4 separate regions of the Homo sapiens genome follow, and regions 2, 3 and 4 are each linked to region 1. The links come from fine-mapping of genetic effects on gene expression. A gene starts in region 1. Each other region holds a variant in brackets. All regions are shown on one strand. Distances are from middle to middle. Region 1 holds the start of PRAM1 (PML-RARA regulated adaptor molecule 1). Region 2 overlaps MARCHF2 (membrane associated ring-CH-type finger 2). Region 3 overlaps MYO1F (myosin IF). Region 4 overlaps MYO1F (myosin IF).

The links. PIP is the estimated chance that this variant, and not a neighbour inherited with it, causes the effect.
Region 2: its variant is fine-mapped to the expression of PRAM1 in whole blood (TOPMed, PIP above 0.99).
Region 3: its variant is fine-mapped to the expression of PRAM1 in whole blood (TOPMed, PIP above 0.99).
Region 4: its variant is fine-mapped to the expression of PRAM1 in whole blood (INTERVAL, PIP above 0.99).

Annotation. Positions count from the first base shown.
Region 1 is chr19:8,498,869-8,506,969 of GRCh38, reverse strand. It overlaps PRAM1 (PML-RARA regulated adaptor molecule 1), which reads left to right and starts at 4,330. Exons shown (of 10, transcript NM_032152.5): 1 at 4,330-4,405; 2 at 7,190-8,101. The coding sequence starts at 4,379. RefSeq lists enhancers at 39-625, 665-1,165, 7,775-8,101 and silencers at 709-968, 1,079-1,178, 1,199-1,248.
Region 2 is chr19:8,433,834-8,441,934 of GRCh38, reverse strand. It overlaps MARCHF2 (membrane associated ring-CH-type finger 2), which reads right to left. Exons shown (of 5, transcript NM_001005415.2): 5 at 2,918-3,547. The coding sequence ends at 3,389. Among named protein-coding and RNA genes, the nearest start is that of HNRNPM, 7.1 kb to the left of the region's middle. RefSeq lists a silencer at 1-70. The variant C/G (reference allele first, on the strand shown) is at 3,474.
Region 3 is chr19:8,540,538-8,548,638 of GRCh38, reverse strand. MYO1F (myosin IF) reads left to right here. Exons shown (of 28, transcript NM_012335.4): 11 at 322-402; 12 at 517-603; 13 at 2,903-2,989; 14 at 4,175-4,342; 15 at 6,648-6,733. LOC124904633 (a long non-coding RNA gene) reads right to left here. Exons shown (of 3, transcript XR_007067131.1): 3 at 1,314-2,554. Among named protein-coding and RNA genes, the nearest start is that of ZNF414, 30 kb to the right of the region's middle. The variant A/G (reference allele first, on the strand shown) is at 3,429.
Region 4 is chr19:8,529,945-8,538,045 of GRCh38, reverse strand. It overlaps MYO1F (myosin IF), which reads left to right. Exons shown (of 28, transcript NM_012335.4): 17 at 991-1,097; 18 at 1,449-1,547; 19 at 1,650-1,794; 20 at 7,473-7,587; 21 at 7,681-7,850. The region is part of intron 1 of LOC124904633 (a long non-coding RNA gene); the gene reads right to left. Among named protein-coding and RNA genes, the nearest start is that of ZNF414, 20 kb to the right of the region's middle. The variant CTG/G (reference allele first, on the strand shown) is at 3,714.

The DNA of each region.
Region 1 (8,101 bases):
GGGACAGGGTGAAGGGGCCCATTTTACAGATATATAGAGAAGGTGAGGCTAGGAGGCCTCTAGCCAGCCCCAGTTCCCAGTCAGCGGCACTGATTCTGCACCATCTTGGGAGCTGCGCACGGTTACCACGAGAAGAGAAAACCCTGCCAGCAGGTCCAGAGGACACGCCCCTGTTCCCGCATTCTGCAGGTCCCTAGATCTGGCTGTAGTCCAAGCCTCTCCCCCATCTCCAGGGACAGCGCTGTGTTCTCTGTCCCCCAGGCCCCTAACCCCTCTCCAGGGTCCCGGGGGCCCCCAGGAGTCTTTGTCCCCATCAGTTTCTTTATTCGGCCACCCCCAGATCTAGGCCACGCCTCTTCCCAGTCTGTCAGTATCTTTCCAGAGAAACCTAGAGCCAACACGTCCGTCCAGGGACCTCTCCCCTACCCCATCACCCACGGAGATGGGACAGCCCTTCCTGTGTGTACAGCGGGCCCACGGCCACCACACTACCCTCTGGAGTGAACTGACTGCCGCGAGGCCTGGGGAGCTGGCTCACCACCTGTCCTCCACCGTTCACCCTGTCCACTGCAGAAACGACCTCCTACCCTCAAGCCGGCCCCCAACCCCCATGCACAGGAGCCCAGCCCTCTTGGGCCCCGGCTCCGCCCAGCAGGGGGCGCCCAGGAATCTCAGACTCGGGGGAATGAAAGCCGGGAGAGCAGTGGGGATAGCGGGCAGGTTGGCTGGAAGCCGCGGGCTCGCGCTGAACAGCTCTGAGGCCGGCCAGAGGCCCGTGCCCGGCATTTGTCCAGCCCCAGCTGTCACTTGCAGGTGCCGGTCCGGTTACCCTCATTGCGGGCCAGGAGCGGGGAGGTGGAGGGCGCCCTGCGGCCCTGGGATCCGCCGCCCACGTGCTCCCCGGGCTCCTCCCCCTGCACACCGTTGTTCGCGTTTCCGACCCCGCAGATTCCCCAAGGCGCGCCCTAACGAACTCTCACTCCCCTGGTCCGGGCTCCCTTCTCCGGGATTCCGGTAACCCTATCTGTCCCTGTCTGCAGCCGCGCCGCGCGGAACCCTGCCGGGAGCCCCTACGGAGGCGCCAAATACACAAAGGGTAGTTGGCGGGGAGGCGCACCATGACTACAGCTCCGGGACCTGCGCTTCACCCCCACGGCGCCCCCGTGGGGCCTTGGTGCGCGCGCCCTGGCTGGACCCTCCTAGCTGCGAGAGTGCACGGGTAGTGACCAGCCCAGGCACCTGGGAATCCATCAGCTGTCATCCAATCCTTTAATTACCTTGATTGAGCTCCTTACTGTGGCCAAGCATTGCTTGATTTATTTATTTACTTATTTTTATTATTTAATTTAATTTTTTTTTTTTTGAGACGGTGTCTCGCCTTGTCACCCAGGTTGGAGTGCAATGGCGCAATCTCAGCTCACTGCAACCTCCGCCTCCCGGGTTCAAGCGATTCTCCCGCCTCAGCCTCCCAGGTACCTGGGATTACAGGTGTGCACAAACAGTATTTTTAGTAGAGACAGGGTTTCATCATGTTGGCCAGGCTGCTCTCGAACTCCTGACCTCAGGTGATACGCCCGCCTGGCCTCCCAAACTTCTGGGATTACAGGCGTCAGCCACCGCGCCTGGCCACTTGTTCTTTCTTTCATTCTTTCCTTCACTTGCCAAGGTTCTGGAGACCCACAGAGAGCCCATACTGTCCTCCCGAGACTCCTTTTTGGGAGGGCAACCCACATCTGGGAACTGTGCCCCAGGACAGGATGCAAAGGCACAACAGAGATGGCAGAATCCTGATGTCTGTGCTCTTAAAGGAGGCGTGAAAACAGGCAGGCCAGGCGCAGTGACTAAGGCCTGTAATCCCAGCACTTTGGGAGGCCCACGTGGGTAGATTGCTTGAGGTCAGGAGTTTGAGACCAGCCTGGCCAATGGTGACACCCCAGCTCTGCTAAAAATCCAGAAAATTAGCCGGGCATGTTGGCAGGCACCTGTAATCCCAGCTACTTGAAGCCGGGAGGCAGCCTGGGAGACAGAGCAAGACTTTGTCTCAAAAAAAAAATTTTAAAATGTTTTAAAAATACTTGCTCGGGCCACACCCCAGACTGATTAAGTCAGAGTTTCTTGTAGGTTCTGTTTTTTGTTTTGTTTTTTTTTAGATGGAGTTTTGCTCTGTCACCCAGACTGGAGTGCAGTGGAGCCATCTCGTCTCACTGCAACCTCCGCCTCCTGGGTTCAAGCAATTCTCCTGCCTCAGCCTCCCAAGTAGCCAAGATTACAGGCATGCGCCACCACGCCGAGCTAATTTTTGTATTTTTAGTAGAGATGGGGTTTCTCCATGTTGCCCAGGCTGGTCTTGAACTCCCAACCTCAGGTGATCAACCTCAGGTGATCCACCCGACTCAGCCTCCCAAAGTGCTGGGATTACAGGCGTGAGCCACACTGCCCAACCGCCGGTTCTTTTTTTTTTTTTTTTAACTGTTCAGGCAATTCCAACATGTGCTCAAACTGAAAACCAGGGCTCTCTACTCTCTTAGCAGGTGTTTTCTCCCTTTGTCTACCGTGACGGAGATTACTGATCTCCTGTGGGCTGAGCTCTGTGGTCAGGGCTTGTCCTTATCTGGCCAGTCCTCGGCACCACAAGTGACTGCCTTCACCCCCTCTTGGCCCCTGTCTCTGTCTCCTGGTTCCTCTTCTCTCTACTACCTCTAACCTCTGGGAATCTGGTGTGTCCTCGGGTCCTCAGACCCCCTCACTCCTCCAGAACTGCAAAGCCTTTTTTTTTTTTTTTTTTTGAGATGGAGTCTCTCTCTGTCACCCAGCATGGAGTACAGTGGCGTGATCTTGACTCTGCAACCTCCGCCTTCAGGGTTCAAGTGATTCTCCCACCCCAGCCTCCCAAGCAGCTGGGACCACAGGCGTGCACCATCACACCTGGCTAATTTTATATTTTTTGTAGAGATGGAGTCTTGCTACATTGCCCAAGCTGGTCTTGAACTCCTGGGCTCAAGTGATCCTCCTGCCTCAGCCTCCCAAAGTGTTAGGATTACAGGCGTGAGCCACCGTGCGTGGCCCAGGTGCAAGGCCTTTGACACCACTCACCCACCGACCCCCAAATCTGCTGTACCAGCTAAGCTTTCTGCCCAGGGCGGCAGCCTGGGACATCCATGGCCTGTGATATCTGCCCCAGAACAAGTGAGTCCTGCTCAGAGCCGGGAATTGGATTTCATGGAAGTGTTGAAATGAGGAAGGCGGATGAGCCAACCAGGGCAGACAGCAGAGGCCTCACCCGGTCACATGGGCCCCCACGTCCTGGGCCTCTGGGCCTCCCCAGGAGCCTCCTAAACCCCAGAGCTGTCCGTACCCCTGATCTGCTGAGATCTCCCCATCCTGTGGCTCTCTAGCCCAGGAGGTCACCAGGGCCTGGCATGGAGTCCTCCCTGGAGTCCAGAGATGGGGACACCAAAGTAGTAGGAATGATGGGGACTATAGAGAGTAAGAAACTAGTTGGCCAGGCGTGGTTGCTCACGCCTGTAGTCCCAGCACTTTGGGAGGCCGAGGCGGGCAGATCATCTGAGGTTGGGAGTTTGAGACCAGCCTGACCAACATGGTGAAACCCCGTCTCTACTAAAAATACAAAAAATTAGCCGGCAGTGGTGGCACATGCATGTAATTCCAGCTACTCAGGAGACTGAGGCAGGACAATCGCTTGAACCTGGGAGGCGGAGGTTGCAGTGAGTCGAGATTGCGCCACTACACTCCAGCCTGGGCAACAAAGTGATACCCCGTCTCAAAAAAAAAAAAAAAAAAAAAAAAAAGAAAGAAACTAGTGACCATGTTAGGAACATGCGGGCAACCAGTGCCCCAAGCTTGGGACAGTAGCAGGCAGGACAGGAATTCAAGCGAAATAGAAGTGCCCAGCAGGGGCCGGGGCAGTGGCTCACACCTGTAATCCCAGCACTTTGGTAGGCCGAGGCGGACCGATCCCTTGAGGTCAGGAGTTTGAGACCAGCCTGCCCAACATGGTGAAACCCCTTCTCTACTAAAGATACGAAAAGTAGCCAGGAGCGGTGGTGCGCGCCTGTAATCCCAGCTACTCAGGAGGTTGATGCAAAAGAATTGCCTGAACCCGGGAGGCAGAGGTTGCAGTGAGCCGAGATGGCACCATGGCACTCCAGCCTGGGCGACAGAGCAAGACTCAGTCTCAAAAAAAAAGAAGTGGCTGGCAGGATCTGGAGACGGACTGGAGCCTCCCCACCTCCTTCCCTTCCTCCTCTGCCCTCCCCCGCCCCACCTCTAGCAGCCCCCACCCTGTGTGCTGACCGTGGAGCAGAAGCCACAGTCACTTCCTGAAGGCAGCGGCCCCAGCTCGGGTCCCACTCATCCCATGGCCCATCACCTGCCTGCAGCCATGGTGAGTGCTGGAAGAGGCCTGTGCCTCACTGGCTGGGAAGCAAGGGACACAGATGTTCCCAGAAGGATAGGATCCACCTGTGGAGGGGCGGGCGGGGGGGCGGGGGGTGGCTGCGAAAGACATCTGGGAAACGGGAAGGGTCGGCAAAAAGGACCCGAGGTAGGCGGCCACCAGGCACACCCCAGGACAGCGCGGGCTCCTGGGGGTTCACGCTCAGGTTGGGACTGCGAGGGGGACAGATGGGACTCCCCGGGGGGACAACTCCCGTCTCCCCAGGTCAACATGAGCAGCCATGTGGGAACGGGCTGCTGGGGTGAGAGCAGTGCTTTCCTGCGGGGTGACAAAGTGGGTCATGACCCTCCCCCGTCCAGTCACCCAAGTTGTGACCTGCTAACCCTGACTTATCTAGCCCTGTGGTCGCCCGGGAGCACTTCCTTCAAACCACTCGGGGCTTTGACAGGGGCACTTCAGGCCCCAGGTGGGAATTGCTGCCTTTCCAAGGAGCAATCCTGGTCTCTGGTCCTCTGGATGGGGAAAGTGAGGCACACGCAGGAAGCAAAGGCCACACGTTTCTGCCCTTTCCCTCCCCCAATCTCCTTGACCACAGGTGAAAGGGGCGTTTGTAGGACTAAGGAGGCCTGGCCTTCTTGTGAATCTGCCTACCTCTGTGAGGAGTGGTTGCAGGGCCAGCTAGGAGGGCAGCTGGGACAGCTGGGTATGCAGGAGACAGCGCCTGTGCCCACGGTGTCTGCACCAATCCTCTCAGGCACTGTCAACTGTGAGCATTCCTGACCATCAGCCCGCATGTCAGAGACGGTGTGAGAGGGACCGCATGGCCGTCTCCAGGCATCTCTGTGTTTTCCTGATGGTCAGGCTGAGTACATGGCTGTCTTTGTGCTGCCTGAATATTGTTTATTTCAGCAAATATTTACTGAGCACCTACCATGTTCCAGGCCCTGGGAAGACAGCAATGAATGAGCCAAGTCTCTGCCTTGCAGAGGCTGAGGAACTGAGGGAAGTTGTGGTGTAGAGAGACAAAAAAAAAAAAAAAAAAAAATCAAGACACATTAAAAACAATGTAAAATAGTATAATACGTAGGGGTGGGTACGATGGAGAAAATCATGCATGCTGAATGCAGGGCAGTAGTGGGATGGGGTGATCCATTTAAAATAGGGTGGTCTAGGCCAGGCGTGATGGCTCATGCACTTTGGGAGGCCGAGGTGGGTGGATCACTTGAGGTCAGGAGTTCGAGACCAGCCTGGCCAACATGGTAAAACCCTGTTTCCATTAAAAATACAAAAAAAATTAGCCAGGCGTCGTGGCAGACACCTGTGATCCCAGCTACTCAGGAGGCTGAGAATCGCTTGAACCCAGGAGGCGGAGGTTGCAGTATGGCGAGATTCCACCACTGCATTCCAACCTGGGTGACAGAGTGAGACTCCGTCTCAAAAAAAAAAAAAAAAAAGAAAGAAAGAAAAATAGGGTGGTCTAGGTTGGGCACGGTGGCTCACACCTGTAATCCCAGCACTTTGGGAGGCTGAGGCGGGTGGAGGGTGGATCACCTGAGGTCGTGAGTTTGAGACCAGCCTGGCCAACGTGGTGAAACCCTGTCTCTAGTTAAAATACAAAAATTAGCCAGGTGTGGTGGCGAGTGCCTGTAATCCCAGCTACTTGGGCGGCTGAGGCACGAGAATCATTTGAACCTGGGAAGTGGAGATTGCAGTGAGCCGAGATCGCGCCATTGCACTCCAGTCTGGGTGACAGAGCAAGACTCCATCTCAAAAAATAAAAATAAACAAATAGGGTGGCCTTGGATGGCCTCTCTAATAAGAAAATATGAGAACAGAGGCTGGGAGGAGGAAAAGGAGAGACCCAGGTGGTGCAGAGACATGTCCTGGGTCAGGGACAGGGCAGAGGCCCCGAGGTCGGAGGGAAGTGTTCAGGGTGCAGGGAGGAGAAGGTGGCTGGGTAGGGAGGCTGGTTCGCCCAGGCTTTTATGAGGCATTTAGCTTGAACTGTGGGGACATGAGGAAGCATTGCCGAGTTTTGAGCAGAGGGACACAAACAGACTCAGGGTTCAACAGGCTTCTCCCTCCAGCTGCCATGGGGGGAACTGACCAGGGAAGGGGGTAGGCAGAGGCCCAGGGAAGGGCTTGTTAGAGTAATCCAGGCAATTGGTTGGGGGAGGGCAGACACTGCCTCCCACTACCTCCTGGGGTGACAGTGGTGAAGGCAGTGAGAAGTGGTTGGATTCCGGATGTGTTTTGAAATTAGCACAGAAGGGACTGGGGGCCTGGGCGCGGCGGCTCAAGCCTGTAATCCCAGCTACTGGGGAGGCCGAGGTCGGGGGAATCATTGGAGCCCAGGAGTTGCAAGCTGCAGTGAGCTATGATTGCACCACTGCTCTCCAGCCTGGGCAATGGAACGAGACTGGAGACATGCAGTGGGAGGGGTGAAAGAATGAGGGGGTCAAGGATGCTGGGGGGGTGGGGTACCACCCATGGGGGGAGGGCAGTGGGACTGGAGGCTGCAGGAGGGATGTCGGGATCTCCAGTGCTGCTAGAGGAGGTTGGGTGTGGAATCAGCACTAAATGGAGAAGTAGGGAGGGGTGTCGGTCCCAGGATCCTAGGATCCATGGGGGCTCCTGGGAAAGAGCTGAGGGCTGACCGGGCCTGGGCGCAGGGGTGGTGGTTGTGGGCTGTGCCTGAGGGTCCCCAGGCCCATCCTTCCATGCCCCTTCTGTGTGTTTGAGCCCCTGCCTCATTGGCTCTGCGTCTCCTAGGAGAGCCATCAGGACTTCCGGAGCATCAAAGCAAAGTTCCAGGCCTCTCAGCCGGAGCCCAGCGACCTGCCCAAAAAACCTCCGAAGCCTGAGTTTGGTAAACTGAAGAAGTTCTCCCAGCCTGAGCTAAGCGAGCACCCCAAGAAGGCCCCGCTGCCTGAGTTTGGTGCAGTGTCCTTGAAGCCCCCGCCGCCTGAGGTCACTGACCTCCCCAAGAAGCCCCCGCCGCCTGAGGTCACTGACCTCCCCAAGAAGCCCCCGCCGCCTGAGGTCACTGACCTCCCCAAGAAGCCCCCGCCGCCTGAGGTCACTGACCTCCCCAAGAAGCCGTCCAAACTGGAGTTGAGTGACCTCTCCAAGAAGTTCCCACAGCTGGGGGCCACTCCGTTTCCAAGGAAGCCCCTGCAGCCTGAGGTCGGTGAGGCCCCTTTGAAGGCCTCGCTGCCGGAGCCTGGTGCGCCGGCCCGGAAACCCCTGCAGCCCGACGAACTCAGTCACCCCGCCAGACCCCCCTCCGAACCCAAATCCGGCGCATTCCCCAGGAAGCTCTGGCAACCCGAGGCCGGTGAGGCTACCCCGAGGTCCCCGCAGCCTGAGTTGAGTACCTTTCCCAAGAAGCCTGCGCAGCCTGAGTTCAACGTGTACCCCAAAAAGCCTCCGCAGCCTCAGGTCGGTGGCCTCCCTAAGAAGTCCGTGCCGCAGCCTGAGTTCAGCGAGGCCGCTCAGACTCCCCTCTGGAAGCCTCAGTCCAGCGAGCCGAAGCGCGACTCCAGCGCCTTTCCCAAAAAGGCCTCCCAGCCTCCGCTGAGTGACTTTCCCAAGAAGCCTCCGCAGCCTGAGCTTGGGGACCTCACCAGGACCTCCTCAGAGCCCGAAGTCAGCGTGCTTCCCAAGAGGCCGCGGCCGGCCGAA
Region 2 (8,101 bases), 65 kb after region 1:
CATGGCCACACAGGCTTCTCCTTGCCCTTCCAGTCCAGGCAGAAAGTTTTTCTTCCTTTGTGAGTGAGCTACATACCAGGCAGGGATTCATATGGAAAACAGACCTTGAGCAATCAGCTCCTCCACTCTGAGGCTCAGTTTGCTTAACTGAAAATATGGATAATAAGAAATGCAATGCACCAGGCTGGGCACGGTGGCTCACGCCTGTAATCCTAGCAGTTTGAGAGGCCGAGTCAGGTGGATCATTTGAGGTCAGGAGTTCAATACCAGCCTGGCCAATATGGCGAAACCCCATCTGTACTAAAAATACAGAAATTAGCCAGGCATGATGGTTGGCGCCTGTAGTCCCAGCTACTCAGGAGGCTGAGACAGGATAATTGCTTGAACTCGGGAGGTGGAGGTTGCAGTGAGCAGAGATAGTGCCACTGCGCTCTAGCCTGGGCAACAGGGCGAGACTCCGTCGAAAGAAAGAAAGAAAAGAAAGAGAGAGAGAGAGAGAGAGAAAGAAAGAAAGGCACCAGAACTCACCTTTCAGGGTTGCCCTGAGCTTTAAAAGCAGACAGATGCCAAGAGCCTTTAAATATAAAAGAATCGGCAGGCAGAAAGCGCTGAAGAAGTAGGTGTTGTTATTAGATTAACTGCATTCTGGGCCAGGCTCGGTGGCTCACGCCTGTAATCCCAGCACTTTAGGGGGCCGAGGTAGGTGAATCACCTGAGGTCAGGAGTTCGAGACCAGCCTGGTCAACATGACAAGACTTCATCTCTACTAAAAATACAAAACTTAGCTGCCTGTGGTCCCAGCTACTTGGGAGGCTGAGGCAAGAGAGAATCACTTGAACCCGGGAGGCAGAGGTTGCAGTAAGCCAAGATCACCAAGATCACGCCACTGCTCTCCAACCTGGGTGATGGAGTAAGACTCTGTTTCAAAAAAAAAAAAAAAAAAAAAAAAAAACACGTATTCTGCATCTTTCCTGAGTCTTCCTCCAAAAGGAGTCCTGGTGTCACCCCGGCTCCACTTCCTACAGCTCTGAGACCTTAGATTAAGGCTTCCCTGCCCTGGGCCTCAGTCTTCTCACCTGTAAAATGTAGGTAATAACCACTTCTTCCCTAACAAGTGACAGTCAAAGGAGGGAGAGACTCGGAACTATGCCTAATCTATAGTCACCCTAAGTCAGCGTGGATATTGTCACCATTTTTAAAAAATTGTTTGTTTGCTTTAGAGACAGGGTCTTGCCCTGTTGCCTAGAATAGACAACAGAAGTATAATTATAGCTCACTGCAGCCTGGAACTCCTGGATTCAAGGGATCCTCCCACCTCAGCCTCCTGAGTAACTGTGACCACAGGTGCATGCCACCATGCCCAGCTAATATATATATATTTATATATTTATTTATTTAGTAAAGACAGGGTCTCACTATGTTGCCAAGGCTGGTCTCAAACTCCTAGGCTCAACTGATCCTCCTGCCGAAGCCTCCCAAAATGCTGGGATTACAGGCATCAGCCACCAGGCCTGGCCCATGCTGGACTCTCTACACTTAACTAAAAACTAACAGTGGCTAGGCGCAGTGGTGCATGCCTGTTGTCCCAGCTGCCAGGGAGGCTGAGACAGGATTGCCTGAGCCCAGGAGGTCGAGGCTGGAGTGAGCTGTGTGATTGTGCCTCTGCACTCCAATCTGGGTGACAGAGCAAGACCCCATCTCAAAAAAAGAAAAACAGAGGCCAGCATGGTCTGTGGACTGGCAGATGCAAAGTAAGAGGAAATTGTTCTTATGTCTATTTTATTTTTCTATTTTTTATTTTTTGAGACAGAGTTTCACGATGTCACCCAGTCTGAAATGCAGTGGTGCAACTGATCTCAGCTAACTGCAACCTCTGTCTCCCAGGTTCAAGCCATTCTCCTGCCTCAGCCTCCCGAGTAGCTGGGATTACAGGTGTGCGTCTCCACGCCCAGCTAATTTTTGTATTTTTAGTAGAGATGGGGTTTCACCATGTTGGCCAGGCTGGTCTCGAACTCCTGACCTCAGGTGATCCACCCATCTCGGCCTCTCAAAGTGTGATTACAGGCATGAGCCACCATGCCCAGCCCGTATGTATATTTTAAAAATCATTTTTATAACCCTGCTACCTGATTTTTACTTGAAGACTGAGCCTTTGCTTCTTCCCATGGGCTTCAGAACAGATCCCTCAAAACAAGCCAGTGGTTTTTATTGTTTTTTATTTTATTTTATTTTTTTTGAGACAGAGTCTCGCTGTCTCACCCAGGCTAGAGTGCAATGGTGCGATCTTGGCTCACGGCAACCCCTGCCTCCCGGGTTCAAGCGATTCTCCTGCCTCAGCCTCCCGAGTAGCTGGGACTACAGGTATCTGCCACCACGCCTGGCTCATGTTGTATTTTTAGTAGAGACGAGATTTAACCATATTGGCTAGGCTGGTCTCGAACTCCTGACCTTGTGATCCGCCCACCTCAGCCTCCCAAAGTGCTGGAATTCCATGCATGAGCCACTGTGCCTGGCCAACCAGTGTTTTTTGTTGTTGTTTTGTTTTGTTTTGTTTTGGAGATGGAGTCTCTCTCTGTCGCCAGGTTGGAGTGCAGTGACGCCATCTCAGCTCACTGCAACCTCCACCTCCCAGGTGCAAGCGATTCTCCTGCATCAGCTTCCTGTGTAGCACCTGGGATTACCGGCGCGCACCACCATGCCCAAGTAATTTTTATATTTTTAGTAGAGACAGGGTTTCACCATGTTAGCCAGGATGGTCTCGATCTCTTGACCTTGTGATCCACCCACCTCAGCCTCCCAAAGTGCTGGGATTACAGGAGTGAGTCACTACACCTGGCTGGCCGCCAGTGTTATTTTTTTACCTCCATGTGGTCCCTCCCTGGGAGGCCTCCTTTGAGAAACATAACTGACAAGTCCATTTTGTCCAGCCAGGGCTCCTTTTATTCATTCAGGGGTGGGTTTTTGAAACGCAGTGCAACTTTTATATAAAGTCGAGGGTGCCAGGAAAGTGGGCCTGCCGGGTGCAGAGAAGCGCAAGAAGCTTGCTGGAATGTTCCAGCTTTAAGGGCGCCCTTGATACACCGGCCACAGCTGCTGGCCCAGAAGGTGCCATGTGGACCTCAGAATGAGATCAGGGTGCCTGCTCCGTCCAGAGCTCAGGACCATGTCCACCTGTCCTCCATATGCAAAAAAAAAAAAAAAAAAACCCTGAAAATATCTTCACACAGGATCACAGACTAGGCTCTGCATGGTGTCTCTTGGCCTAAGAAGCGTTCAGGCCGTGCGGGAACTGTTGAAGTGGAAGTGTTGAAGTGGAAGTCCTTCCACAGGACAGGGTATCACCAGCTACCTCTGGCCTCTCTGCTGCAGGGTCCGGAGAGCCCAGCATTCATACTGGTGTCTCCTCTGCCACCTTCTTCAGGAGTCCAGCTGCCAGTGGAGAATGCTGGGGGCCCTCGGGGCTGTCCGCCTCC[C/G]GGATCTTCAGGCGAACTTTCTGGTTGGTCTTTCTCCACTCGGAGTACAGCTGGCAGTGGTAGCGGAAGGAGACCTGTGGGGCAGCCCTGCAGTGAGCGGAGGCCTCCACCCGCAAGGGAGGAAAACAAGTCGCCGTGGTGGCACCTGCGTTGGCCCAAACCATGGCTGGGGCTCATGCTTCCAGAAGCAGAGCTGGCTTATGAACATTCCTCCCACAAAGTGCACACACACAGACCCATTCACACTCCTGGTGACACCCACCAGCTTCCAGAGTCCTGCAAAGACAAGATACACCCCACACACACCAGCAGGAAGCAAACGGGAGCTCCTTTCCTGCCTCTCAGTGGGAAAGGAGTGAAACAGCCTCTTGGAAGGCATTAAATGTCAATCAATCAGGCCGGGCGAGGTGGCTCACACCTGTAATCCCAGTAGTTTGGGAGCCCGGGCACGGGGGAAGATCACTTGAGCTCAGGAGTTCAAGATCAGCCTGGGCAACATGGAGAAACCCTGTCTCTACTAAAAACCCCGTCTCTACTAAAAATACAAAAATTAGCCTGGCGTGGTGGCACGGACCTGTAGTCCCAGCTACTTGGGAGGCTGAGGCAGGAGAATCGCCTGAGCCTGGGAGATATGGGCCGCAGTGAGCCGAAATCACGCCACTGCACTCCAGCCTGGGCGACAGAGTGAGACCCTGTCTCAAAAAAATTTTTTTAATGTAAATCAGTCACATAATTGCCAAAACGTGCAACCAGAACGTGCAAACAAAAAAAAAAAGTTTAAAAAAAAAAAAGTCACTCAATAGGTGAATGAGGCCAGGCGTGGTGGCTCACGCCTGTAATCCCAGCACTTTGGGAGGCCAAGGCAGGTGGATCATGAGGTCAGGAGATCGAGACCATCCTGGCTAACACGGTGAAACGCCATCTCTACTGAAAATACAAAAAATTAGCCGGCCGTGGTGGTGGGCGCCTGTAATCCCAGCTACTCGGGACGCTGAGGCAGGAGAATGGTGTGAACCTGGGAGGCAGAGCTTGCAGTGAGCCGAGATCGCACCACGGCACTCCAGCCTGGGCGACAGAGCGAGACTCCGTCTCAAAAAAAAAAAAAAAAAAAATAGGTGAATGAATAAATAAACAGTGGTGCTTCCAGATAATGAGATCTTATTCAGTGCTAAAAAGAAACGAAGCTGGGTAAGGTGGCTCATGCCTGTAATCCCAGCACTTTAGGAGGTCGAGGCGTGGGGACCACTTGAGCTCAGGAGTCGAAGGCCAGCCTAGGCAACATAGCGAGACCTTGTCTCTACCAAATATTTAAAAATTAGCCAGGTGTGGTGGCCCAGGCCTGTGGTCCCAGCTACTTAGGAGGCTGGGGTAGGAGAATCATTTGAGCCCTGGAGGTTGACGCTGCAGCAAGCTGTGCTCACGCCACTGCAATCCAACAGAGTGAGATCCTGTCTCAAAAAAAAAAAAAAAAATGCTGGGCGCAGTGGCTCAAACCTGTAATCCCAGCACTTTGGGAGGCCAAGGTGGGTGGATCACCTGAGGTCCAGAGTTTGAGACCAGCCTGACCAACATGGAGAAATCCCATCTCTATTAAAAATACAAAATTAGCCAGGCATGGTGGCGGGTGCCTGTAATTCCAGCTACTCAGGAGGCTGAGGCAAGAGAATCGCTTGAACCTGTGGGGGAGGGGTGCGGAGGCTGCGGTAAGCCGAGATCGCTCCACTTCACTCCAGCCTGGGTGAAAGAGCGAGACTCTGCCTCAAAAAAAAAAAAAAAAAAAAAAAGAAAGCCCTTAAGCCACGAAAATAACCTTAAATGCTTATCACCAAATGAAATAAACCAACCTGAAGATGCTGCATACTGAATGACTCCAACTATAGGACATTCTGGAAAAGGCTAAACCATGGAGACAGTAAAAAGATCAGCAGTGGATAGGGCTTGGGGAAAAGGAGGGTGGCATGAATAGAGAGAGCACAGAGGACTTTTAGGGCAACGAAACTACTCTGTCTGATATTATAATGGTGAATATGGCTGGGTGCAGTGGCTCACACCTGTAATCCTAGCCCTTTGGGAGGCCAAGGTGGGCAGATCACGAGGTCAAGAGATCGAGACCATCCTGGCCAACATGGTGAAACCCCATCTCCAATAAGAATACAAAAATTAGCTGGGCGTGGTGGCACAGGCCTGTAGTCCCAGCTACTCGGGAGGCTGAGGCAGGAGAATCGCTTGAACCCAGGAGGCGGAAGTTGCAGTGAGCCAAGATCGCACCACTGCACTCCAGCCTGGCACACAGTGAGACTCTGTCCCCCCCAAAAAAAAAAATAGTGAATACATGTCATTATACATTCATCAAAACTTATAAATGTCCAACAGCAAGAGTCAACTCCTAGCCTGGGCAACATGGCAAAACCCGGTCTCCACCAAAAAAATACAAAAATTAGCCAGGCGTGGTGCACACATCTGTAATACTAGCTACTCAGGAAGCTGAGGTGGGAGGATCAATTGAGCCTGGGAGGTTGAGGCTGCAGTGAGCCATGATCACGCCACACTGCACTGCAGCCTGGGTGACAAAGAACAATCCTATCCCCTCCCCGCCACACACACACACACACACACACACACACACACACACAGGCCAGGTGCAGTGGCTCACACCTATAATCCCAGCACTCTGGGAAGCCAAGGTTTGAGCCCAGGAGTTTAAGACCAGATACAACAACATAGCAAAACACTGTCTCTACAAAAAATACAAAAACTAGCCAGGTGTGGTAGTGGGCACCTATGGTCCTAGTTACTTGGGAGGGCCGAGGTGGGAGGATCGCTTGAGCCCAGGAGGTAGAGGTTGCAGTGAGCGGAGATCACACCACTGCACTCCAGTCTGAGAGACAGGGCGAGATACCATCTCAAAACAAACAAACAAAAGAAGTGAATCCTAATGTGAACTATGGCTTTAAAGGGATAATGAAGGTTCACTGATTGTAACAAATGCACTGCTTGGGTAAACGATGTTAATAGTGGGGGAGGCTGTGCAAGTTGTGTGCGTATGGAGCAGGGTGATATACAGGAACTCTCTGTACTTTCTGCTAAATTTTGCTGTGAACCTAAAATTGCTCTAAAAATTAGTCTATAAAAAAATTTAAAAATGGCCTAGTGTGGTGGCTCACACCTGTAATCCCAGCACTTTGGGAGGCAGACACGGGCGGATCACGAGGTCAAGAAATCGAGACCATCCTGGCCAACATGGTGAAACCCTGTCTCTACTAAAAATAAAAAAAATTATCTGGGCATGGTGGCGCACACCTGTAGTCCCAGCTACTCGGGAGGCTGAGGCAGGATAATTGCTTGAACCTGAGAGGCAGAAGTTGCAGTGAGCCAAGATCGCGTCACTACACTCTAGCCTGGTGACAGAGCGAGACTCTGTCTCAAAAAAAAAAAAAAAAATTAAAAAATAAATGTTGCTTAGCGCAATGGCTCACGCCTATAATCCCAGCATTTTGGAAGGCCAAGGTGGGCAGATCACCTGAGTCCAGGAGTTCGAGACCAGCCTGGCCAACATGGTGAAAACTCGTCTCTACTAAAAATACAAAAATTAGCCAGACATGGTGGCAGATGCCTTAATCCCAGCTACTCGGGAGGCTGAGGCATGAGGACTGCTTGAACCCGGGAGGCGGAAGTTGCAGTAAACTGAGATTGCACCATTGCACTCTGGCCTGGGCGACACAGTGAGACTCCGGCTAAATAAATAAATAAATAAATAAAGGTCAGTGGTTCACATCCTTTGACCAAGCAAGTTCCCAAGAAACATTTGCATGGACAGTCCCAAAGCACTGTTCATAATGGAAAAAACAAGGAAGTAGAAATAAAACCACACACACATTGGAAAAAATCCCAGTGCCTGTCAAAAGTGATTTGTTAAATAAATATGGTCCACCCATACAATGAATGTCTGCTGGGTGGCTGCCTCGTTGTGTGTGTGGGTTTTTTTTTTTAAAGAACACCAGCAAAATGAAAACAAGCAGATGCTAAAACAGTAGCTATGATTTCATCCTATTTACATATTTTAAAATATGCTGGTAGGGGCAGGGCGCGATGGTTCATGCCTGTAATCTCAGCACTTTGGAAGGCCAAGGTGGGTGGATACCTGAGGTCAAGAGTTCGAGACCAGCCTGGCCAACATGGCGAAACCCCGTCTCTACTAAAAATATAAAAATTGGCTGGGTGTGGTGGCACATGCCTGTAATCCCAGCTACTCAGGAGGCTGAGACAGGAGAATCGCTTGAGCCCAGGAGGCGGAGATGGCAGTGAGCCAACATTGTGCCACTGCACTCTAGCCTGGGTGACAGAGCAAGACCCCGTCTCAAAAAAAAAAAAAAAAAAAAAGAAATGCTGGTAGGTTCATTGAAAAATACTTTGTGAGGCAGGGACTCCCCTACAGCTGGACAATAGTGGTTATGTCTGAGGGGTGAGATTTGGGGGAGCTTTTGCCTCTAAGCAAGGGTTCTGCTGCCTACCAGAGGCCTAGAACAATACCTCACACCCCCATCATTCTGTCTGTCTCTCATTCAGGCTTTTTTTCTTTTTTTTTTTTTTGAGACAGAGTCTTATTCTGTCACTCAGGCACCCAGGCT
Region 3 (8,101 bases), 42 kb before region 1:
ACAGAGTGAGACTCCGTCTCAAAAAAAAAAAAGAAAAAAAAAAAAAGAAAATAGAGGTGCAGAGAGGTTCAGGGGCAGAGTCAGCTCTGGAGTCAGGGACCCTGATACACTGACACTTGGGTTTCTCCTCTGAGTGACTGATTATGGGGTGGGGAGACTGTACACAGAGCCAGGAAGGGCAGAGCTAAAGAGGGCTGGAGGGAAACTGGCATGAGGGGACATCACCCATGAAGTTGGCTAGGCGTGTGTCTAAGGAGTGGTGGGCAGGGGCTTCAGATCTGACCGATGCCCACTGACTTCCTGTCCCCACCCACACCGCAGGCCATCAACCGTGCTATGCAGAAACCCCAGGAAGAGTACAGCATCGGTGTGCTGGACATTTACGGCTTCGAGATCTTCCAGGTACGGCCCCCTGCCTCCAGCCCACATCCTGTCCTCCCTGGGGCAGCCCAGGGTGGCCACAAGAACTTCCAGCACCAGGACATTGAGGGAAGGACCCTTTTCCTCCTTCTGCAGAAAAATGGCTTCGAGCAGTTTTGCATCAACTTCGTCAATGAGAAGCTGCAGCAAATCTTTATCGAACTTACCCTGAAGGCCGAGCAGGTGGGCGGCCAAGCAGTCAGGGATGGGGGATCCTGGGGTGGGGGTGGGGTGGAAGGACCATGAGGATCCCTTAGCAACTAGGGGACACCCCAGCCCTCCCCACCGCGTTCCCACCTCTCTGTGCCAACCTACCCAGGCTCCATAGTGATACTTCCTTCTGCCTCTAAAGCTTTGGGAAGGACCGTGCCTCTTAGTTCATTCATTCAGCAATTATTTATTGAGCACCTGTTGTGTGCCAGGTACTGTTTAGGGTGCTTGGAGACACAGCCATGAACAATAAGGCAATAGTCCCTGCTGTCTTCATTTTGCCCCTCCCCCAGAAGCAGAGCCTGAGGCAAGGATTCAGAGACAAATGGTTTTTCTGGGAGGCAATCCCAGGAAGCTCCAAGAGGAGACTGAGGAAGTAAGTCAGGGATTTTTTTTTTTTTTTTTGAGACAAAGTCTCGTTCTGTCACCCAGGCTGGAGTGCAGTGGCATGATCTCGGCTCACTGCAACCTCCGCCTCCAGAGTTCAAGTGATTCTCCTGCCTCAGCCTCCCGAGCAGCTGGGACTACAGGCACCCACCACCATGCCCAGCTAATTTTTGTATTTTTAGTAGAGACAGGGTTTCATCATATTGGCCAGACTGGTCTCAAACTCCTGACCTCGTGATCCACCCACCTCAGCCTCCCAAAGTGCTGGGATTACAGATGGGAGCCACCATTCCCCGCTTTTTTTTTTTTTTTTTTTTTTTTGAGACAGGAACTCGCTCTGTTGTCCAGGCTGGAGTGCAGTGGTGTGATCACAGGTCACTGCAGTCTACACCTCCTGGGCTCAAGCAATCCTCCCACTTCAGCCTCTCAAGTAGCTGGGACCGCAGGCACACACCATCATGCCTGGCTAATATTTTAAAACTTTTTTGTAGAGTTGGTGTTTCACTTTGTTGCCCAGATTGGTCTTGAACTCCTGGCCTCAAGCAATCCTCCTGCCTTGGCCTGCCAAAGTGCTGGGACTACAGGCATGAGTTAATATGCCCAGTCCTGAGACAGGGATTTTTTTAACAAAGAGAGAGAGAGAGGCTGGGTGCAGTGGCTCACGCCTGTAATCCCAGCACTTTGGGAGGCTGAGGTGGGTGGATCACCTGAGGTCAGGAGTTTGAGACCAGCCTGGCCAACATGGTGAAACCCCATCTCTACTAAAAATATAAAACTTAGCCAGGTGTGGTGCTGGGCACCTGTAATCCCAGCTACTCAGGAGTCTGAGGCAGGAGAATTGCTTGAACCCAGGAGGCAGAGCTTGTAGTGAGTCGAGATTGTGCCATTGCACTCCAGCCTGGGCAACAGCAGAATGAGACCCTGTCTCAAAAAAGAAAAGAAAAAAAGAGAGAGACAGACCGAGCCAGACACAATCACTCACACCTATAGTCCCAGCTATCTAGGAGGCTAAGTTAAGAGGATCGCTTGAGCCTGGGGGTTCAAAGCCAGCCTGGACAACATAGTGAGACCTCATCTCTACAAAAAACATAAAAATTAGCCAGGCATGGTGGTGTGCTCCTACGGTCCCAGCTACTCGGAAGGCTGAGATGAGAGGATCACTTGAACCCTGGAGGTCAAGGTTGCAGTGAGCTAGGATCGCATCGCTGAGTTCCAGCCTGGGTAACAGAGCAAAACCCGGTCTCAAAAAAAAAAAGCAAGCTGTGTGCGGTGGCTCATGCCTGTAATCCCAGCACTTTGGGAGGCCGAGGTGGGCAGATGTCCTGAGGTTGGGAGTTCGAGACCAGCCTGACCAACATGGAGAAACCCCATCTCTACTAAAAATACAAAATTAGTCCGGCGTGGTGGCACATACCTGTAATCCCAGCTTCTCGGGAGGCTGAGGCAGGAGAATCGCTTGAACTCGGGAGGCGGAGGTTGCGATGAGCCAAGATCGTGCCATTGCACTCCAGCCTAGGCAACAGGAGTGAAACTCCATCTCAAAAAAAAAAAAAAAAAAAAAAAAAGAGTCAAAATAGTGTGTTAATGAGCACGTTATGCTGTGGACAACCGGAATGCAACTGCACTGGGACTCGAGGAGGCTTCATAGAGCGGAGAAGCGAGGGAGCTGGGGTATTTATCCACCCACTCCTGTTGATTATTGGTCAAGGACTGCTGAAACCAGATGTAATTCCCTGGCACTTCCAGCCTTGCCCACATAGGAGTGACGGGCTTTGTTACCAGAGACAGTCCTAAGTGATGAGATGGAGAAGGGGAGAGGACATGGGGGGAAGGGTGGCCACAACTTTTTCACTGGCCCCCACATCCACCCCCTTTTCCACCCCAGGAGGAGTATGTGCAGGAAGGCATCCGCTGGACTCCAATCCAGTACTTCAACAACAAGGTCGTCTGTGACCTCATCGAAAACAAGCTGGTGAGGGCTGGGTCAACTTTGGCGGGGGCGTCTCACTGGTCCCCTGAGCTGAGTCTGGAAGATGAGGGGGAGGGCCAAGGGTGTTATGGCATCCTCAGGCCCTTCTCTACCCTACACTCAGGACTTCCAGCGACAGATAACAACCAAAATGTCCCTTCCGCCCCTCATCCATTCATTCCGCCTACTTGTCCACCTTTCACTTAATCATTCAATAAACATTTCCCCGGGAACCCCAGCTCACAGTTAGAGTCAAATTTGCAGATTCCATGCCGGTGGCTCACGCCTGTAATCCCAGCACTTTGGGAGGCCAAGGTGGGCGGATCACCTGAGGTCAGGAGTTCGAGACCAGCCTGACCAATATGGTGAAAACCTGTCTCTACTAAAAATACAAAAAATTAGCCAGGCGTGGTGGCAGGCGCCTGTAATCCCAGCTACCCGG[A/G]AGGCTGAGGTGGGAGGATCACTTGAGCCCAGGAAGTCAAGGGTGCAGTGAGCTATGATTGCACCACCACACTCCAGCCTGAGGAACAGAACAAGACCCTGTCTCAAAAAAAATTAAATTTAAGACGTATTTAGGCGGGACATGGTGGCTCATGCCTGTAATCCCAGCACTTTGGGAGGCCAAGGCAGGTGGATCACCTGAGGCCAAGAGTTCGAAACCAGCCTGGCCAACATGGTGAAACCCCATCTCTACTAAAAAATACAAAAATTAGCCGGGCATGGTGGCGGCATGCCTGTAATCCCAGCTACTCAGGAGGCTGAAGCAGGAGAATCACTCGAACCTGGGAGATGGAGGCTGCAGTGAGCTGAGATCACGCCACTGCTCTCCAGCCTGGGCAAGAGAGCAAGACTCCGTCTCTAAATAAATAAATAAATACATAAGGCAGGTCCCCCTACCAAGGGATTCTAGTCTGGGGCCTGAATCTCTTGAGGGGTCCCCACCCACTTCTGCACCTCAGCGAGCTTCCACAGTAGCCCCACACACCCTTGCCCCCCTATCCCTTCCATCCCTGACCCCTGCAACGCCTTTTGTGCTTGTATTTGAAGCCCCTGGTGCCCTCCCCACCCCCAAAGCTCTAGCTCCCTCCACTCCTCCACCCCCTCCCTCCCCTAATCTCTGCACTGACGAGCTGTGGGGAGGCAAGGCAGACCAAACTGAGCCGCTGCTGGCTCCCGCTCGCCCCGCAGAGCCCCCCAGGCATCATGAGCGTCTTGGACGACGTGTGCGCCACCATGCACGCCACGGGCGGGGGAGCAGACCAGACACTGCTGCAGAAGCTGCAGGCGGCTGTGGGGACCCACGAGCATTTCAACAGCTGGAGCGCCGGCTTCGTCATCCACCACTACGCTGGCAAGGTGCGCCCCCTGCCCCTACCCTACCCTGTGCCTCCTCGCAGACCCCCAGGGCTCCAGGCTGTAGCCCCCACCCTCCAGCACCCAGGCTGGAAAGAGCCTGCTAGGACCCTTATCCAGGGCTGTAGAATTCCACTGTCCCCCGCCTCAATCCACCCCCTACTAACCAGAACTACAGACCCTTCCGGCTGACCCCCCAGGAACTCTCTAAGCCCCAAACTTGTCTGGACACCACCACCACCACCACCACCACCACCAGCACCGCCACCGCCACCGCCACCGCCACCGCCACCGCCACCACCAGCACCACCACCAGCACCAGCACCAGCACCACCACCACCACCACCACCAGCACCACCAGCACCACCACCACCACCACCACCACCACCACCACCACCACCAGCACCACCACCACCACCACCAGCACCACCAGCACCACCAGCACCACCACCACCACCACCACCACCACCACCACCACCACCACCACCAGCACCACCAGCACCACCACCACCAGCACCACCAGCACCACCAGCACCACCACCACCACCACCACCAGCACCACCAGCACCACCAGCACCACCACCACCACCAGCACCACCACCACCACCACCACCACCACCACCAGCACCACCACCACCACCACCAGCACCACCACCACCACCGTGTTCCCTGGGCCAGGGCTGCAGAAACCCTGACCTCTGATCCAGGCCACAGCTTCCCTTACACATCAACTCCCCTAACAGAGGGAACAGAATTCCCCCCGATTAACACCAGCTTGGGTACCAGACTGCCTATGTTCAGATAAGCCCCAATGTGAGTCATAACCCCCTGACTAGGACACAGCCCCCCACCTTCTGATCCCAATTTGGAGAGGAAATCCCCAAAGCCCCCAGGCCCCTCCTGTGAGCCACCAGCCTTCAAAATGTGCTGAAGCCTCCTACAGACCCCTACCGAAGGCTACAGAAATCCACTGGACTCTAACCATGCCCGCAGCCCCACTCCCCAAAAGACAGGACTACACTCTCAGGCAGTGATCCAAGGATCTCACAACATGAGAGCAGAAGTTCCTAGGAGTGCCCCTAAAATGGGCTGGAGAGGCTGGGAGTGGTGGCTCACGCCTGTAATCCCAGCACTTTGGGAGGCTGAGGCGGGTGGATCACCTGAGGTCAGGAGTTCAAGACCAGCCTGGCCAACATGGTGAAACCCAGTCTCTACTAAAAATACAAAAATCAGCCGGGCGTGGTCGTGGGCACCTGTAATCCCAGCTACTCAGGAGGCTGAGGCAGGAGAATCACTTGAATCCAAGAGGTGGAGGTTGCAGTAAGCCAAGATTGTGCCACAGCACTCCAGCCTGAGCAACAGAGCAAGACTCCATCTCACAAAACAAAAGCAAACAGGGCCGGGTGCAGTGGCTCACGCCTATAATCCCAGCACTTTGGGAGGCTGAGGCGGGCGGATCACAAGGTCAGGAGATCGAGACCATCCTGGCTAACATATTGAAACCCCGTCTCTATTAAAAATAAAAAAAAAAATCAGCCAGGTGTGGTGGCACACGCCTGTAATCCCAGCTCATCGGGAGGCTGAGACAGGAGAATCACTTGATCCCGGAAGGCGGAGGTTGCAGTGAGCTGAGATCGTGTCATTGCACTCCAGCCTGGGTGATAGAGCAAGACTCTTTCTCAAAAAAAAAAAAAAGCAAACAAACAAAAACAAAAACGGCTGGAGCTCCCATGTTCCCTCAGCCAGGGTTGCAAAAGCCCTGCTCAGAACTACAGAGGGCCCTAACCTTTGGTAGCAGCTCCAGCCCCCAACCCTGGCTGAAATGCCCCCAGAGATCCCTGAGACAGGGCTGTTACCCTCCTGACACAGGCCCCCTGCACTGGCCCCTGATTGACCAGGTCACAGATATCCAATCTGACCTCTGACTCCCAGGGACCCCCCCGCCAGGCTGCAGCCCCCCACCCACCAATCTGAGCTATAACTTTCACCGCCCCCCGGCCTCTGATGCAAGCTGCAGCTCTCTCCTGGCTCATCTAGGTTGTAACCCCCACCTCCCCTTACCTCTGACCTGGGATACAGCCACGATCCTCTAACCTCAACTTGAACATCAGCTCTCCAGGAAGCCCGCCCCCCATCCCCTATTCTGAACTGTAGATACCCCCCAGCCAGCGCTGTAGACACTGCCTGATCCTCTCACCCCACAGCAGGCCCCAGGAAAGCCTTGACCACCTGGGCTGTAAGCACCCCACGCCCACCCTCCCAGCCAGGTTTCTCAGTCCCTCACTGTCCTCAGCACTGTCCCCTCCAGGTCTCCTACGACGTCAGCGGCTTCTGCGAGAGGAACCGAGACGTTCTCTTCTCCGACCTCATAGAGCTGATGCAGACCAGTGAGCAGTGAGTGGTCCCAGGCATGGGGACCTCCGGCTACAACCCCCCAAGGGGATGGAGGGAGGACCGGGCCCCACTCCATCTTACCCAGAACTGCCATCTCGCCACAAACTCGAGGGGAGTGGCTGTGCGGCCAGGATGGTGTTTCTATGGACTAGTTCTGATGTAAAAAGTAACTCCAGAGGCCGGGCGCAGTGGCTCACGCCTGTAATCCCAGCACTTTGGGAGGCCGAAGTGGACAAATCTCTTGAGGCCAAGAGTTTGAGACCAGCCTGGGCAACATGGCAAAACCTTGTCTCTACTAAAATTATAAAAATTACCTAGGCGTGGTGGCGCGCACCTGTAATTCCAGCTACTCAGGAGGTGGAAGCATAAGAATCTCTTGAACCCAGGAGGCAGAGGTTGCAATGAGCCAAGATTGTGCCACTGCACTCCAGCCTGGGCGACAGAGGGAGATTCTGTCTCAAAAAAAAAAAAAAAAAAAAACACACACACACACACACACACAAAGAACATAGCATTAGATGTAAAGTAATAAGACGGGGATCCTTAAAGTGTTTGACATGTGGTTCTTAGACCAGCAACCTGAGCATCCTTGGGCCTTGTTTCCAGTGCAGAATCTCCCTAGCCAGAAGGATCACTGGAGGTCCCAAGTTTAAGACCAGCCTGGGCAACATAGCAAGACCCCTGTCTCTTAAAAAAAAATTCTTTTTTTTAAATGCTTGTCTACTCTGCCAGCAAAAATAATAATAATTAATTAATTAGCTGGGTGTGGTGGCACATGCCTATAGTCCCAGCTACTCGGGAGGCTGAGATAGAAGGATCACTTGAGCCTAGGAGGTGGAGGCTACAGTGAGCCGTGATTGCACCACTGCACTCCAGCCTTGGCAACAGACCTTATCTCTGAGGGGAAAAAAAAGGCAGAACCTCAAACTCCACCCCAGACCTCCAGAATCAGAATCTGCATCTGATTCTGAACTATCAGAATCTGAACAATCAGGTTTAGAACTATCGGAACCTAACCTGATCTTTAAGCCAGGATGCACCCATGCCTCCCAGGGATCCATGTGCACGTAAGGGTTTCAGCAGCACTTACCATTAAATCCACCCACTTTAAGCAGTGTCTCAATCCATGACGTTTAGCAAATTCACAGAATTGCGCAACCATCACCACAATCCGATTTTTTTTTTTTTTTTTTGGAGACAGTGTCTCTCACCCTGCCGCCCAGGCTGGAGTGCAGTGGCACGATCTCGGCTCACTGCAACCTCCACCTCCTGGGTTCAAGCGATTCTCCTGCCTCAGCCTCCCGAGTAGCTGGGATTATAGACGCCCACCATCATGCCCCGCTAATTTTTGTATTTTTAGTAGAGACA
Region 4 (8,101 bases), 31 kb before region 1:
GAGCCGAGATCATGCCACTGCACTCCAGCCTGGCAACAGAGCGAGATTTTGTCTCCAAATAAAAATAAAAATAAAAATAAAACAAAATGCAAAACCCAAGGCAAACCTCTCAGGCATACACACAGTTTCCCTACCTCCAAAGTACATGTCTTAGCCAGGCACAGTGGCTCAGACCTGTAATCCTAGCTACTCCGGAGGCTAAGGCAGTTGATCGCTTGAGCACAGGAGGCTGAGGCTACAGTGAACTATCACGGCGCCACTATACCCCAGCCTGAGTGACAGAGGGAGACCCTGTCTCAAAAAAAATCACCCAGCCAGGTATAGTGGCTCATGCCTGTAATCCCAACACCTTGGGAGCCAGAGGTGGATGGATCACCTGAGGTCAGGAGTTCATGACCAGCCTGACCAACATGGCAAAACCCTGTCTCTACTAAAAATTATCCGGGTGTGGTGGCACATGCCTGTAATCCCAGCTACTTGGGAGGCTGAGGCAGAAGGATCTCTTGGATCCAGGTGGTGGAGGTTGCAGTGAGCCAAGATGGCACCATTGCGCTCCAGCCTGGGTGACAGAGCAAAATTCCATCTCAAAACAAAATAAAACAGAACAAAACAAAAAAAACAAACACCCAAGGTACCTATCTCCCCAAAGGACAAAAAGAAATGCTCTCATAAGGGCTCTGTTACTCAGTCAACAAACATTTACTGAGCACTTACTATGTGCCAAGGTAAGTGGTGAGTGCGGTAGACGTGAGAGCTCCTTGTCTTGGGTTCCAGGGTCAGGCAGACACCCCACATCAGTCCCACTAGTGTGGTGTGCACTAGTGGAGGTGCACACAGACCAGGGACATCTGGCCCCTGTGGCTTATCTGTTACCAGCCCTCACCCACCCCCAGTCTCTGTCTATTGGGACTGTATCCAGGGTGGAAAAAAGAGGGGCCAGAGGGTCCCATCTCTGTGCCCCCCACCCACCCGTCTTCACTTCTGCCTCAGAAACAAGCCAACGACCTGGTGGCCACACTGATGAGGTGCACACCCCACTACATCCGCTGCATCAAACCCAACGAGACCAAGAGGCCCCGAGACTGGGAGGAGAACAGGTGATCCCCCCCAACCAATCCAAGATTCATTCCCCCCAGGCCCTGCAGTTACCCCTAGAACTGACCGAGACACCTCCCTGACCTCCTGTAGGATGACCCAGGGACTAGCACAGCCCCTCCCACAATCCCCCACCTGCAGAACTGACCCCAGAAGGGACCATCAGGACAAGATCCCTCCCCCCAGTCCCCAGGCTGACCCCCGAAGCCCCCCCAGACCACAGAACTCACCCCCCAAACTTCCCTCAGCATGAATCCAGATCCCCCCAGGTCCCCCACCTCCAGCACCTCCCACCCACCCCCAGGACTGGTGACTCCCCACCCCGAGGGGACTCAGCCTACCCTCCCCACCAGAGTCAAGCACCAGGTGGAATACCTGGGCCTGAAGGAGAACATCAGGGTGCGCAGAGCCGGCTTCGCCTACCGCCGCCAGTTCGCCAAATTCCTGCAGAGGTGAGGAGCCCTCCACCCCCGCCCTCGCCATCCCCTTCATCAGAACGCCCAGCCAGGCCTGTCTGCTATGAGCACTCCCACACCCCAGCCCTCCGCCCTCAGGTATGCCATTCTGACCCCCGAGACGTGGCCGCGGTGGCGTGGGGACGAACGCCAGGGCGTCCAGCACCTGCTTCGGGCGGTCAACATGGAGCCCGACCAGTACCAGATGGGGAGCACCAAGGTCTTTGTCAAGAACCCAGAGTCGGTGAGTGTGTTTGAGGGACAGGCAGAGAAGGAGAGGGGAAGAGAGAGAAAGGTATAGAGAGGGACTGAGAGAGAGAGAGAGAGACAGAGGGAGACAGAGATTGAGAGAAAGACTGATAGATTGAGAAATTGAGAAACAGATTGAGAGAGAGGGATTGACAGAGAAACTGAGATAGAGGTTGAGAGAGAAATTGAGAAAGCAAGTGAGAGATTAATAGACTGAAAGTAAGAGACTGAGAGAGACTGAGCGAGAGATTAAGAAAGACTGCGACTGCCGGGCGCGGTGGCTCATGCCTGTAATCCCAGCACTTTGGGAGGCTGAGGAGGGCGGATCACAAGGCCAGGAGATCGAGACCATCCTGGCTAACACAGTGAAACCGCGTCTCTACTAAAAATACAAAAAAAATTAGCCGGGCATGGTGGCGGGCACCTGTGGTCCCAGCTACTCAGGAGGCTGAGGCAGAAGAATGGCTTGAACCCAGGAGGCAGAGGTTGCAGTGAGCCGAGATCACGCCACTGCACTCCAGCCTGGGCGACAGAGCGAGACTCCGTCTCAAAAAAAAAAAAGAAAGAAAGAATGTGATTGAGAGATTGAGAGAGAGAGATTGAGAGAGACACTCTGGAAGAAATAGACCAAAAATTTTGACATAGAACAGAAAAAAGGCAAAATAAAACTAGCACCAAGTCAGGTGTGGTAGCGCATGCCTGTAATATCAGTGCTTTGGGAGGCTGAGGCAGGAGGATGGTTTGAAGCCAGGAGTTCGAGACCAGCCTGGGAAACATAGTGAGACCCTGTCTCTACAAAAGACAAAAAGAAAAAAGAAAAATAACTATCACCAGCAAAGACTATATAAAGTAAAATTTAATTTAGACAAAAATTTCAGTCTATAGATTTTGATTTGGAGAAGACGGACGGGGTAGAAATAATGAAATTCACGATGGCAGATGCTTAGTGGTAAAATCCTATAAGAACATCAACAACAAAGACAGACTGAATATTTATAAAAGAAAGAAAATAATCCTGATGAAAATAATCTTGCTGGCCAGGCGCACTGGCTCACACCTGTAATCTCAGCAATTTGGGAGGCTGAGGTGGATGGATCACTTGAGGTCAGGAGTTTGAGACCAGCCTGGCCAACATGGTGAAACCCCTTCTCTATTAAAAGTACAAAAATTAGCTGGGCGTGGTGGTGCACACCTGTAATACCAGCTACTCAGGAGGCTGAGGCAGGAAAATCACTTTAACCCAGGAGGCAGAGGCTGAAGTGAGCCAAGATCGTGCCACTGCACTCAAGCCTGGGCAACAGTAATTTAATTTTAGTAAAATAAGCTGGGTGCAGTGGCTCACGCCTATAATCTCAACACTTTGGGAAGCCGAGGCGAGTGGATCACGAGGTCAGGAGTTCAAGACCAGCCCGACCAACATGGTGAAACCCCGTCTCTTCTACAAATACAAAAAATTAGCCAAGTGTGGTGGTGCGCACCTGTAATCCCAGCTACTCAGGAGGCTGAGGCAGGAGAATCACTCAAACCCAGGAGGCAGAGGTTGCAGTGAGCCGAGATCGCACCACTGCACTCTAGCCTGGGCAACAGAGTGAGACTCCATCTCAAAAAAAAAAAAATTAGTAAAATGAAAATAGAAGAAAAGGCCAGGCACGGTGGCTCACAACTGTAATCCCAGCACTTTGGGAGGCCAGGGTGGTGGATCACTTGAGGTTAGGAGTTCGAGACCAGCCTGGCCAACATGGGGAAACCCCATCTCTACTAAAAATACAAAATAAGCCGGGCATGGTGACACGTGCCTGTAATCCCAGCTACCTGGGAGGCTGAGGCAGGAGAATTGCTCGAACCTGGGAGGCAGAGGTTGCAGTGAGCTGAGATTGCGCCACTGCACTCCAGCCTGGGGGACAAAGTGAGACT[CTG/G]AAAAAAAGAAAAGAAAAGAAAAGAAAAATAGCCAACGGTTTAACTGTGCTATATTTAAAAAGTAATCAAGAAATTAAATTAGCTTAATGGAGTTGGAGCCTTTCTCAACCAAAAATGCATTCATGTTGGGATGAATTTTTTTTTTTTTTTTTAGACAGAGTCTCGCTCTGTCACCCAGGCTAAAGTGGAATGGCGCAATCTTGGCTCACTGCAACCTCCACCTTCCTGGTTCAAGCAATTCTCCTGCCTCAGCCTCCCAAGTAGCTGGAATTACAGGCACCCGCCACCACACCAGGCTAATTTTTGTGTTTTTAATAGAGATGGGTTTTCACCCTGTTGGCCAGGCTGGTCTCCTGACCTCAAGTGATCTGCCCACCTCAGCCTCCCAAAGTGCTGGGATTATATGCATGAGCCACCGCGCCCGGCCCCTATTTTGATTTTCTTATGAACATGGTTTGGGCCATCCTCAAACATTTTATCTGCCTGTTGGCCTTTGTGGCCCAGCATCCCAGGTATGTTATAATAGTCTGCTGGGACAGCTGAAACAAAGTTCCACAAACTCCATGGCTTAACACAACAGCAATTTATTCTCTCACAGTTCCGCAGGTCAGAAGTCCAAAATCAAGGTGTTGGCATGGCCATACTCTCTAAAGGTTTTAAAGAAGAATCTGAGGCTAAGCGTGCTGGCTCACGCCTGTAATTCCCAGCACTTTGGGAGGCCGAGGCAGGCGGATCATGAGGTCAGGAGATTGAGACCACCCTGGCTAACACAGCAAAACTATGTCTCTACTAAAAAAATACAAAAAAGTTAGCCAGGCATGGTGGCGGGCGCCTGTAGTCCCAGCTACTCGGGAGGCTGAGGCAGGAGAATGGCGTGAACCCAGGAGACGGAGCTTGCAGTGAGCCAAGATCGCACCACTGCACTCCAGCCTGAGCGACAGAGCAAGACTCCGTCTCAAAAAAAAAAAAAAAGAAGAAGAAGAAGAAGAAGAAGAATCTGAGGCTGGGCACGCTGGCTCACGCCTGTAATCCCAGCACTTTGGGAGGTCAAGGCTGGTAGATTCCTTGAGCCCAGGAGTTCCAGACGAGTCTGGACAACATGGCAAAACCCCAACTCTACCTCTCTACCAAAAAAATATATATATAATAATACCATAATTAGCCTTGAGTGGCTGAGGTGGGAGGATCCCTTGAGCCCGGGAGCCGAGATCGCACCACTGCACTCCAGCCTGGGAAACAGAGCAAGACCCTGTCTCTGAAAAAATTAAAACTATTTTGGTCAGCAGAGCAGGGAGCAAGGCTCTTAGCAGCAATGTGCTACCTATGGACTTGGGAAAGCACTCTGGGTGAAGTGCTAATTTTTCTAAATAAAGCCCAATTGTGTGTGTGTGTGTGTGTGTGTGTGTGTGTGTGTGTGTGTGTGTGTATTTTTTTTTTTTTCTGAGACAGGATCTCACTCTATCTCCCAGGCTGGAGTGCAGTCGCACAATCACAGCTCACTGCAGCCTCAACCTCCTGGGCTCAAAGAATCCTCCCACCTCACCCTCCGGAATAGCTGGGACTACACATGCGTGCCATCACCCTCAGCTAATTTTTGCTTAGTTTTTGTAGAGACGGGGTCTTTCTATGTTGCCCAGGCTGGTCTTGAACTCCTGGGCTCAACAATGCTCCCACCTTAGCCTCCCAAACTGCTGGGATTAGAGGCATGAGCCACCGCACCCAGCCTATATTTGCATTATTTCCCATCTTCACTAATTGACAATATTGTCCCTTTGATCACAGTTTCTCTTTGAAGTAGGATGTTTCTCAAGCATCTGCCCTATTCCAGTTAATCATTCTATTCTCTGACAGGCATGCTATTGTTTTTATTACTATAGATTTACAGTATTTTAATATCCAGTAGGTTCCTCACCTTGTTCACCTGCTGTTATTACAAATGAGTAGACATTCCTCTTAGACTTTGTACTTTGACTTGCTGTAATGTAATTCATTCTCTAAGTCCCCTCTGGGTCTAGACTTTTACAACTCAAAACCCTTTTCTCTGCTTTCTGCAAAAGCTTCCTTTCTGGGCCTGCTACGGATGGCTGTGCAGGTTGTACACTGCCCAACCACACGGTTGCTAGTCACATCACAGTTCTACACATCAGATTTTCTTTTTCTTTCTTTTTTTTTTTGAGATGGAGTTTCATTCTTTTCTTTTTTCAGGGGTCGGGGGACTGAGTCTCACTCTGTCGCCCAGGCTGGAGTGCAGTGGCGCAATCTCCGCTCACTGCAACCACCACCTCCCGAGTTCAAGCGATTCTCCTGCCTCAGCCTCCCGAGTAGCTGGGATGACAGGCATGCGCCACCACACCCGGCTAACTTTTGTATTATTAGTAGAGACGGGGTTTCACCATGTTGGCCAGGCTGGTCTCAAACTCTTGACCTCAGGTGATCCGCCCACCTCGGCCTCCCAAAATGCTGGGATTACAGGCTTGAGCCACTGCACCCGGCCACATTTTCATATTTACTGTATTTTATTGGTTTTCCAAGATGCACACTGGTTCCTATTTCTACCATCTCTGACACGGCAGTGTACCTCGTGGATAGTGTCGAGTAACAGTGTAAGAAACCGTGACATCATACCGTTTCTTGCAAAAGCACACAGGTAGTAAGTGGCACAGCTGTGATCTGAAGCTAGTGACTCACTGTTATCATGTAAGGCAGAAGTGTGTACCCCACATGGGGAGAGACGCACAGGGAGGTCCAGTCATTTGGAGGAAGATAAAAATTTTTCCAGCCTGGGCAACATGGCAAGACCACATCACCACAAAATTAGCTGGGCATGGTGGCTCACAGCTGTAGTCCCAGCTACTCAGGAGGCAGAGGTGGGAGGATCACTTGAACCCAAGAGGTTGAAGCTGCAGTGAGCTATGACTGCACCACCACACTCCAGTCTGGGCGACGGAGCGAGACCCTGTCTTTTTCTTTTTTTCTTTTTTTGAGATGAAGTTTTGCTCTTGTTGCCCAGGCTGGAGTGCAATGGCACAATCTCAGCTCACCGCAACCTCCAACTCCCAGGTTCAAGTGATTCTCCTGCCTCAGCCTCCTGAGTAGCTGGTATTACAGGCATGTGCCACCATGCCCGGCTAATTTTATGTTTTTAGTAAAGACAGGGTTTCTCCATGTTGATCAGGCTGGTCTCAAACTCCCGACCTCAGGCGATCTTCCCGCCTCAGCCTCCCAAGGCGCTGGGATTATAGGCATGAGCCACCAGCTTTTTTTGTTTTTGTTTTTTGTCTTTTTGAGATGGAGTTTCACTCTTGTTGTCCAGGCTGGAGTGCAATGGCGCGATCTCAGCTCACTGCAACCTCCGCCTCCCGGGTTCAAGTGATTCTCCTGCCTCAGGCTCCCGAGTAGCTGGGATCACAGGCATCTACCACCATGCCCAGCTAATTTCTTTTTGTATTTTTAGTAGAGATGGGGTTTCACTATGTCGGTCAGGCTCGTCTCAAACTCCTGACCTCAGGTGATCCACCCGCCTCGGCCTCCCGAAGTGCTAGGATTACAGGCGTGAGCCACTGCGCCCGGCCCCTTTTTCTTCTTTTCTTTATGAACGAGTGTCACTAGAAAGACCCCGCCTCTTAAAAAAATTAGCACATGTGTGGGGATGGGTGAGCAAAAGCGTGTGAGTAGGGTGAGCGCAGGGAAAACCCGGAACTGCAGCCCCTGGGGAGACACCAGGACTCACCCTTGCCCCCCACGACCCCCGCCCAGCTTTTCCTCCTGGAGGAGGTGCGAGAGCGAAAGTTCGATGGCTTTGCCCGAACCATCCAGAAGGCCTGGCGGCGCCACGTGGCTGTCCGGAAGTACGAGGAGATGCGGGAGGAAGGTGAGAGGCTTCGGGTAAACGGCGCGGGGTGGGGGCACAAGGACCTGGAGGAGCTGTATCAGGAGCTCTGCCCTCCACCCTCTGTCCCCGCAGCTTCCAACATCCTGCTGAACAAGAAGGAGCGGAGGCGCAACAGCATCAATCGGAACTTCGTCGGGGACTACCTGGGGCTGGAGGAGCGGCCCGAGCTGCGTCAGTTCCTGGGCAAGAGGGAGCGGGTGGACTTCGCCGATTCGGTCACCAAGTACGACCGCCGCTTCAAGGTGAGGCACTAGTGGGTGGGCACAGCAAGACCCTGACTACAGCCTGGCACCCTCACCTGGCCCAGATGCACCTGCCCACAGCCAGATATCCCCCAGCCTAGATCCATCTGTTCCATCACAGGTACACCCTCACCTGGCCCATATGCACCTGCCCACAGGCATAGATCCCCCAGCCTAGATCCATCTGTTCCATCACAGGTATACCCTCACCTGGCACAGACACACCTGTCCATAGGTATCTATCCCCCAGC